Regions from separate parts of the Homo sapiens genome. Here region 2 is linked to region 1. Evidence: fine-mapped expression QTL. A gene starts in region 1. The other region holds a variant in brackets. All regions are shown on one strand. Distances are from middle to middle.

Evidence for each region. PIP is the estimated chance that this variant, and not a neighbour inherited with it, causes the effect.
Region 2: its variant is the best candidate, but not a certain one, in a credible set for the expression of CLCA4-AS1 in visceral fat (GTEx, PIP 0.89).

The regions. Positions count from the first base shown.
Region 1 is chr1:86,702,177-86,707,557 of GRCh38, forward strand. CLCA4-AS1 (CLCA4 antisense RNA 1) reads right to left here and starts at 2,317. Exons shown (of 5, transcript NR_135837.1): 1 at 1,431-2,317. It overlaps SH3GLB1 (SH3 domain containing GRB2 like, endophilin B1), which reads left to right and starts at 2,400. Exons shown (of 9, transcript NM_016009.5): 1 at 2,400-2,795. The coding sequence starts at 2,724. RefSeq lists enhancers at 1,604-1,673, 2,238-2,739 and a silencer at 2,564-3,053.
Region 2 is chr1:86,668,729-86,674,109 of GRCh38, forward strand. The region is part of intron 4 of CLCA4-AS1 (CLCA4 antisense RNA 1); the gene reads right to left. Among named protein-coding and RNA genes, the nearest start is that of CLCA4-AS1, 33 kb to the right of the region's middle. The variant G/A (reference allele first, on the strand shown) is at 2,824.

The sequences.
Region 1 (5,381 bases):
GACTCAGATTTCTGGCTTAGGTGATTTGGTGTGTATGATTCAATTTATCAATGTAGGAAACCCAAGAAAAGAAGAATTTTCAGGAAAAGCAAACTATAACAGACTTGCCACTGGAAATATTGAATCTATGGATAAATAGTTGGAAATTTAGGCTGGGGGTGATGGTGTCACAAAAGAGCTTAGCACTGTAAACATCTTGATTTGATTACTTTTTTCACTTACTAAATCATTTGGGAATTCACTATGTTGCCTGTGTAAACCATAAAATATATAAAAATAAATAGGAAACGGACACTGCCCTTAAGGGACTGATATCTGGTAAGAGAAGTAGAATCAGTCTGTAGGCAAAGGGTAGAGACTGATGGAGCAAGTTCTAGAGGGTGACAAATTAGTTCTCAACCTTGGTCACACATTAAGAACACCTAGAGGAACTCCTAAAACATCCCAATGCCCAGTCCACACTCTGGGACTGGATCCAGGCATCAGTGGTTGCTTAAACTCTCCAGGTGATGCTGATGTGCAGCCAAGATTAAGGGAGCAGTGGCTCTACTCAGAACACCTGAGACACCTATTCCTTTGAAACATTTGGCAATGATGCAGGAAAGAGTGTGGAGAGAACAGGAGGTGGAAATAAGGAAATTTGGTTGAAGAGGCTTCTGCCAAACAGAGTGATGATTTATATTTTCTCTGTAAAGAAAGCGAATCAGCTGGGTGCGGTGGCTCACACCTGTCATCCCAGCACTTTGGGAGGCTGTGGCAGGCGGATCACTTGAGGCCAGGAGTTCGAGACCAGCCTGGCCCACATGGTGAAACTCTGTCTCTACTAAAGATATAAAAAATTAGCCGGGCGTGGTGATGCATGCTTGTAATCCCAGCTACTTGGAAGGCTGAGGCAGGAGAATCCTTGAACCCAGGAGGCAGAGGTTGCAGTGAGCTGAGATCACACCATTGCACTCCAGCCTGGGTGACACAGCAAAACTCTGTCTCAAAAAAAAAAGTGTCAAAGGCTAAGAATAAGGATATATGAAAATAAGGTAAGTCTTTTATGGAGAATGGGGAAACAGGATTACAGCTACAGAGGGTGCAAAAGAAAGAAGTAACATTGTTGTTTTCCCAAGACTGGGAAGATTGAAACACTTGAGGATGAGGATTCAGGGACACCACTGTGTCCACCATTAAAGAATTTCCCCTTTAATGGTGGACACGGTGGTGTGATCCTTTTGTAGAGACGAGCATAGGTTATGGCAAATATACCTACTTTAAAAACAGTGCTCTGGGAAGAGAGTAAGTGCTTTTCCACATAAAGATCTAAAATAGACAATAAATGAGAAATAGGGTTTTTTATTATATATTCATTTTTCCATATTTCTGGAAAATGAAACAGACATGGAGTATTTCAAAGCTGGGAGAGATCATTATATTGGAGTTACCTTAGAAAGAGGGGGCTGTTTCTGCCACCACAACAAAGAATGAAACAACACAAATATTTACGTTTTCTTCTTGTCCTCATAATGCTTTTACTGCACTCGTCTTTCAACCTTTAACATCTACTGCATCTGTGACTGTTGTTTCAGTAAAACACGGAAGCTTGAATGTAAGCTCATTTCATTGCCTGCTGCACAACCACACAAAACAGCATTTTCTTATTCTTGAAATATGATAGCAACGTCTCCTTCCATGCTTGTACCTGTTTTAATTCCTTTCAAGCAGAGGCTGTATCGTGAAAGATGCTTAAGAAGTTACTTGGAACGACAGGATTTGGAACGGATGTCACATCATATTCTCATTTGTTATTAAAATTAGTCACGCTTAATTGTTAAGGACTATCCTGTGTCGCTCGCCATCTTTGTGTCCTCCACCTGGCACTTTGCTTTCACACAGTAGGCACATAGCGTTGAGGTCCCGGAAGGTTGTCAAGTAACCGGCCAGGAGCTTGAGGGCAGGACATTGTCTCCGACACTTGATTCAGTGCCTGGCACACAGGAGGTATTCAATTATGCTGAATGAATGAGCAACCGGCTCGGTGGGGGACAGTAAACCCAACCCTATTCCGCGAACGTTTGCTGAGCGGCATCCAGGCCTCAGGGACCAAGTGTGTCGCGCGGTGCCATACCGTGACCGGGACCTGTTATTTCTAATGTCCAGATATTGTAATTCTATGCTGTAACTCCTATATTTCCTCTTAAAACAAAAAGAGAAATGTGGGTCGTGTTCGCTCTGGGTTCTCGTTAAGTGCAAGCATACAGAGGCGCCGAGACCCCGCGGCTCGCCCTCGCCGCTTCCTCCACAGGAGCCGGGCGGAGCTCCCGGCGCGCCCCGGGGCTGCGCCGCCGCAATCCTCAAGGGGTCGCTGTTCCCGCGATAACCTCGAGAAAGGCTCCGCCCCGCGGCCCGCGCTTGTTTTTCCCTTGGGACCCGGGTCCACACGGCGGGGTCGCCCGTCCATCTCCGGCTCGCCCGCGGGGCCCATCGTCGACGTTAGCGGCCGTTCTCCGAGCCGACTGACCCATCCTTGGCGCTGCCGCCGCGCGCTTGTTCTCCTCCCTCGCCCCGCCTTCATCCTCCCCGTTCACGGAAACGACAGCTGCGGCTGCGGGGCTGGCGCCGCCTCCCTCCACCTACCACGTCTGCCCTCGCCGCTCTAGCCCTGCGCCCCAGCCCGGCCGCGGCACCTCCGCCTCGCCGCCGCTAGGTCGGCCGGCTCCGCCCGGCTGCCGCCTAGGATGAATATCATGGACTTCAACGTGAAGAAGCTGGCGGCCGACGCAGGCACCTTCCTCAGTCGCGCCGTGCAGGTACCCTGGTGCTGGGGGGAAAAGGGGTGGCGGCGCCCGGGAAGGTTGAGGGAGGGGACCGCAGCTCGACGCGGCGCCCCCGGGCCTCGCCGACCACCCAGCGGGCCTGCTGCAGCCAGAGGCCTGGGAGATGGGCGCGGCCTGGTCCCCTCCCCGGGCCCGGCGGCGGATTTCTGCCCCGCTCCTGCCCAACCGCCGCTCCCTGGGAAGCGAGGCGGGGTGGGGACGGGGCCGGGAGCTTCCTCCCACCCCTGGGGAACACTAAGGCTGCACTGTCCGCCTTTCTGATACCACGACGTCAGTGCTCCTGTGGCCTCCACCCCGGGGCTGGCGGAGGCTTGCGAGTCCTTTGCGGTAACCGAGACACAGGCCATTCTTGCACTACCCCCCACCCTTTCCTTTCGTCTCTCACCCTCCCCTCGGAGTCCAAGAAGGGAGTTTCCTTTTCCTGTCCTTCAACCCAGAGAGCTGCCAACACAGTTCCCTCCGGCCCTCTTTCTCCCTGAAAGGACTGTCCTGGGCTTGGCAGCCCGCGGGGGAAATGGAGATCGCCAGTTGGCGTTGAGACTTTGCCAAGACCACAAGAAACCTAGGGTTGGGGGGTTTTCACTCTTTTTCAAAATGGGAAGCACCAGCTGTAGATCAAGGAGAGATGCGGGGATATTGTTATGGCTGTAGTCACAGTAGTATGTTTTAAATATACTTTAAGGGGAAAAGTTGACTACCTCTCGATATTCTACAATCAAGGAAGTGTCAGTACTAAGGAACTTGGGCCGTTTCCCACAGTCATCACCCATGTTATGCCAACTCAGTAAATCTGTGAACAGATGTAAATTTCACAACATGAATTATAAACAATCTGGTGTTTACGGTCACGGTAGCAACAACATTCTCTTTTGTAAAAAGAAAACAAAAATAATTTTCTAATATGCATACCAAATTGGTGCTGAAATGTAAATCTGTTCTGTGGCTTTACTACTTTCCTTGCCTTTGCCCCAATTTTGTTGGCACAGTTGATCCTACATTGCACTATCCCTGGCAAAAGAGTAGTAGAGCTAGAGCAAGGTAATAGCTGCCTATATTATGAAAAACCTGTCAAGCACTTTGTAATGCATTTGACATATTATCTCCAGTCTTTTCCATAACTTTGCCAGATAGATGTTATTAACCCCTTTTATATATGTGAGGAAGCAGCCTTACTGAGGTTAAGAAACTTGCACAACTAGTAAATAACCAGGTGCTGTCTGACCTAGTACTCCCAGCTGCTTTTTCTTCCGGGATAAGCATTCCAGATTTAAGATAGCTAGAATAATAGAATGCTGTGGCCTAGAGAGACCTTAAAAATCATCTGGTTCAATCTGAGCATTTCCATATCAACAAGCAAGTAACACTTTAGAGATGGTAAATTCCTTCTAGCTTTTGATTTCTAAGTTCTAAAATCTGCATGGTGAGTAATAAGCTAGCTGCCTTAACCCTTTTCTTCCCTTCCTTCCCTAAAATATGATATATTGTAGACGTTGAGCCTTTATAGTTAAAATAATGTTTTGATTTAAATTCACTAGCTTCTAATAGTTCAAAGACAAGGTGCAAGAAGAATGAGTGATTGAGGGTGTGAAATGAATTTTGATGTGTGAGACACTTGTACACTTTTAACATTGACTGCAATAGAGGACTAGAGCCCTTGGTATTTTTGTTTGTCCTAGTGCTCATTACCTATAATTCTAGATGCTTATGAGGATTTGACACTGTATAATGCTACTCTTTTAAATACAGTTAAATATGTTTCAGACGTATAACTCACACCCCTTAAAGAGGACACATTTACTAGAATTTAGTCTGATTTAAATTGTGGATAGACTCAATTTAAAAAATTAAATCTAGCAAAGCTCTCAAAATGTGTACTTCCCAAAGAATTTTAATTCCTTGTTTCAAATTCTTTAGGAAAAAGTTTTAAATTTTATGCTAATCTGTTAGCCATCAAATAATTTTCTTTTCAGTTTTAAATATTTAAGTGTCTACTGCATGTCTGATGTCTGCTTGTGGCTACTGTGGACACTGGTGATACAGCAGTGAATAAAATCAGCAAAGTGTCTGCCCTCCTGAAGCTTACATTGTAGCGGAAGATAAGCTTGTAAATACATCAGGTGGTGATAAAAATCATGGCCAGAAGAATAGAATAACGCAGAGATGGTGGTTGTTAATATCTTTATTAGTATTTTCTAACATTAGTATCGTGTATAGATAGGATGGTCAGGGCAAGTCTTTCTAATAGGATGAAATTCAAGAGACCTCAAGGAAGTGACAGACCTAGTTTTTTTTGGAATAAAAGTATTTCAGGCAGCAGGAAGAAGTACAAAGACTGAAGTTTCAGGGGCATTAAGGAGACCAATGAAGGAGCTGTGGCCATAATACACGTAAAAGGCGATTGTAACTTAGATTACAGTGGTAGCAGTGAAGGTTCCAAATTATCCAGTATTGGCTGTTGGATTGGCTGTGAGGTATGAGAGAAAGATGAGTTAAGGATGACTCCAAGGTTTTGGCTTGAGCCGTTTATTAAGGGAAAAATTTTAGGAGAAACAGACTTCT
Region 2 (5,381 bases), 33 kb before region 1:
CAAATGTACCTAACAGATATTTACAAAACATTTCATCCAACAGCTGCAAAATACACACTCGTCTCAGCACATGGATAATCCTTAAGAATAGACCATATGTTAGGCCACAAAACAAGTCTTTAAAAATTCAAAAGAAATGAAATCATATCAAATATCTTTTCTGACCACAATGGAAAAACACCAGAAATCAATAACAGAAGGGACTTTGGAAACTATACAAATACCTGGAAATTAGATAATATGTTCCTGAATGTCCACTGGGTCAATAAAGACATTAAGAAGAAAATTTAAAAATTTGTTGAAACAAAGGAAAATGGAAATATAACATACAAAATCCTATGGGATATAGCAAAAGCAGTACTAAGAAGAAAGTTTATAGCAATAAGCACCTACATCGGAAAAGCAGAAAAACTGCAAATTAGCAACCTAATGATGTAGATTAAAGAATTAGAAAGAAAAGAGTAAATCAAACCCAAAATTAGTAGAAGAAAAGAAATAATATCAGAGAAGAAATAAATGAAATTGAAATAAAAAATACAAAAGATCAAAGCAAAGTTTTTCTTACGAACAGATAAAGTGACAAATCTTTAGCCTGACTAAGAAAAAAAGAAAGAAGAGCTAGATAAGTAAAATCACAGATAAAAAAGGAGACATTACACTATTACACTTGATACCACATAAATTCAAAGGATAATTAGTGAATACTCTGAGCTAATATATATGACAATACATTGGAAAACCCAGAAGAAATAGATACACTCTTAGACATATACAACCTGCTAAGATTGATCCTGAAGAAATCCCAAACCAGAATAGACCAATAACAAGTAATGAGATTGAAGCCATAATAAAGTCTCCCAGGATAGAAAAGCTCAGGGCTTGTTAGCTTCACTGCTGAATTCTACCTAACATTTAAAGAACTAATACCAATCCTACTCAAACTACTCCAAAAAGTAGAAGAGGAGGGAATACTTCTAAACTCATTCTGTGAGGCCAGTATTACCCTGATACCAAAACCAGACAAAGACACACCAAAAAAAACTACAGGCCAATATCCCTGATGAACATTGATGCAAATATTATCCTCAATAAAACACTAGCAAACCAAATTCAACAACACATTAATAAGATCATTAATCATGACAAAGTGGGATACATCCCAGGGATGCAAAGATGATTCAACATATGCAAATCAATCAGTGGGATATATCATATCAACAGAATGAAGGATAAAAACCATATGATCATTTCAATTGATACTGAAAAAAACACTTGATAAAATTCAACATCCCTTCATGTTAAAAAAAAAAACTTCAAAAACTAGGTATAAATGACATACCTCAACACAATAAAAGCCATATACGACAGACTACAGCTAGTATCATACTGAACAATGAAAAAGTGAAAGCCTTTCCTCCAAGAGCTGAAACAAGATAAGGATGCCCATTTTCATCACTATTATTCAACATAGTACTAGAAGTCCTAGCTAGAGCAATCAGATGAGAGAAAGAAATAAAGAGCATGCAAATTGGAAAGGAAGAAGTCAAATTATCCTTGTTTGCAGATGATATGATCTTATACTTGGAAAAACCTAAAGACTTCACCAAGAAAACTATTAGAACTGACAAACAAATTCAGTGAAGTTGCAGGATACAAAAATCAACATACAAAAATTAGTAGCATTTCTATCTGCCAACAGCTAACAATCTGACAAATAAATCATGAAAGTAACTCCATTTACAATAGCTACAAATAAAATAAAATACCTAGGAATAAACTTAACCAAAGAAGTGAAATATTTCTACAATGAAAACTGTAAAACATTGATGTAGGAAGTTGAAGGTAATACAAAAAAAATGGAAAGATATTCCATGTTCAAGAATTGGAAGAATCAATATTCTTAAACTGTCCATACTACCAAAAGCAATCTACAGATTCAGTGCAATCACTATCAAAATATCAACAACATTCTTCACAGAAATAGAAAAAAAATCCTAAAATTTATATGAAACCACAAAAGACCCAGAATACTCACGGTAATCCTGAGCAAAAAGTACAAAATTGGAAGAATCACATTACCTGACTTCAAATGTACTACAGAGCTACAGTACCCAAAATAACATGGTACTGGCATAACAACAGACATGTAGACCAACAAAATGGAACAGTGAATCCACAAATAAATCCATACATCTACAGTGAACTATTTTTTGACAAAAATACCAAGAACATACATTTAGGAAAGGGCAGTCTTCAATAAATGGTGCTGGGAAAACTGGATATCTATACAATGAAACTAGACCCCTAACTCTTACCATAGACGAAACCAAATAAAAATGTATTAAAGACTTATATCTAATACCCCAAACTATGAAACTACTGAAAGAAAACATTGTGCAAATTCTCCAGGACATTAGACTGAGCAAAGATTTCTTGAGTAATACCCCACAAGCTCAGGCAACCAAAGCAAACATGGACAAATGGTATCAAACCAAGTTAAAAAGCTTCTGCACAGCAAAGGAAACAATCAACAAAGTGAAGGACAACCCACTGAATAGGAAAAAATATTTGCAAATTATCCATCTAACAAGAAATTAATAACCAGAATGCATAAGGAGCCCAAACAACTCAACAGGAAAAAATATAATAATCCAACCTAAAAACTGTGCAAAAGATCTCAATAGACATTTCTCAAAAGAAGACATACAAATGGCAAGCAGGTATATGAAAAGGTACTCAACATCACTGATCATCAGAAAAATGCAAGTCAAAACTACAATGAGATAGCATCTTACCCCAGCTAAAGTGGCTTTTACCCAAAAC[G/A]TAGGCAATAACAAATACTGACAATGATGTGGAGAAAAGAGAACTTCCGTACACTGTTGGTGGGAATGTAAATTAGTACAACCGCTATGGGAAAAAGTTTGGATATTCCTCAAAAAACTAAAAATAGAACTACCGTATGATCCAGAATCCCACTGCTAGGTATAAACCCAAAAGAAAGGAATCAGTACATTGAAGAGATATCTGCACTTCCAATTTTACTGCAGCACTATTCACAATAACCAATATTTGGAAGCAATCTAAGTGTCCATTAACAAATGAATGGATAGAGAAAATATGGTAACTATACATAATAGAGCACTATTCAGCCAAAACAAGAAGGAGATCCTGTCATTTGCAACAACTTAGATGAAACTGGAGGTCATTATGTTATGTGAAATAGCACAGAAAGACAAATTTTGCATGTTCTCACTTATTTGTGGGAGCTAAAAAATTTTTAAAACAATTGAACTCATAGAGATATAGAGTAGAATGATGGTTACCAGTATCTGGGAAGGGTACTTTGCAGGGTTGGGGAGTGGGGATGGTGAATGTGTACAAAAATATAGAAAACCCCATTGTCTCAGCCCAAAATCTCCTTAAGCTGATAAGCACGTTCAGCAAAGTCTCAGGATACAAAATCAATGTGCAAAAATCACAAGCATTCTTATACACCAATAACAGACAAACAGAGAGCCAAATCATGAGTGAACTCCCATTCACAATTGCTTCAAAGAGAATAAAATACCTAGGAATCCATCTTACAAGGGATGTGAAGGACCTCTTCAAGGAGAACTATAAACCACTGCTCAATGAAATAAAAGAGGATACAAACAAATGGAAGAACATTACATGCTCATGGGTAGGAAGAATCAATATCGTGAAAATGGCCATACTGCCCAAGGTAATCTATAGATTCAATGCCATCCCCATCAAGCTACCAATGACTTTCTTCACAGAATTGGAAAAAACTACTTTAAAGTTCATATGGAACCAAAAAAGAGCCCGCATCACCAAGTCAATCATAAGCCAAAAGAACAAAGCTGGAGGCATCATGCTACCTGACTTCAAACTATACTACAAGGCTACAGTAACCAAAACAGCATGGTACTGGTACCAAAACAGAGATATAGATCAATGGAACAGAACAGAGCCCTCAGAAATAACGCCACATATCTACAACTATCTGATCTTTGACAAACCTGAGAAAAACAAGAAATGGGGAAAGGATTCCCTATTTAATAAATGGTGCTGGGAAAACTGGCTAGCCATATGTAGAAAGCTGAAACTGGATCCCTTCCTTACACCTTATACAAAAATCAATTCAAGATGGATTAAAGAACGTTAGACCTAAAACCACAAAAACCCTAGAAGAAAACCTAGGCATTACCATTCAGGACATAGGCATGGGCAAGGACTTCATGTCTAAAACACCAAAAGCAATGGCAACAAAAGCCAAAATTGACAAATGGGATCTAATTAAACTCAAGAGCTTCTGGCACAGCAAAAGAAACTACCATCAGAGTGAACAGGCAACCTACAAAATGGGAGAAAATGTTTGCAATCTACACATCTGACAAAGGGCTAATATCCAGAATCTACAATGAACTCAAACAAATTTACAAGAAAAAAAAAACCCCATCAAAAAGTGGGCAAAGGATATGAACAGACACTTCTCAAAAGAAGACATTTATGCAGCCAACAGACACATGAAAAAATGCTCATCATCACTGGCCATCAGAGAAATGCAAATCAAAACCACAATGAGATACCATCTCACACCAGTTAGAATGGCAATCATTAAAAAGTCAGGAAACAACAGGTGCTGGAGAGGATGTGGAGAAATAGGAACACTTTTACACTGTTGGTGGGACTGTAAACTAGTTCAACCATTGTGGGAGTCAGTGTGGTGATTCCTCAGGGATCTAGAACTAGAAATACCATTTGACCCAGCCATCCCATTACTGGGTATATACCCAAAGGACTATAAATCATGCTGCTATAAAGACACATGCACACGTATGTTTATTGCAGCACTATTCAAGATAGCAAAGACTAGGAACCAACCCAAATGTCCAACAATGATAGACTGAATTAAGAAAATGTGGCACATATACACCATGGAATACTATGCAGCCATAAAAAATGATGAGTTCATGTCCTTTGTAGGGACATGGATGAAATTGGAAATCATCATTCTCAGTAAACTGTCGCAAGGACAAAAAACCAAACACCGCATGTTCTCACTCATAGGTGGGAATTGAACAATGAGAACACATGGACACAGGAAGGGGAACATCACACTCTGGGGACTGTTGTGGGGTGGGGGGAGGGGAGAGGGATAGCATTAGGAGATATACCTAATGTTAAATGACAAGTTAATGGGTGCAGCACACCAGCATGGCACATGTATACATATGTAACTAACCGGCACATTGTGCATATCTACCCTAAAACTTAAAGTATAATAATAATAATAATAAATGAATAAGAACTGGTATTTGGTATCACAACAGGGTGACTATGGTCAACAATACCTTATTGTACATTTAAAAATAACT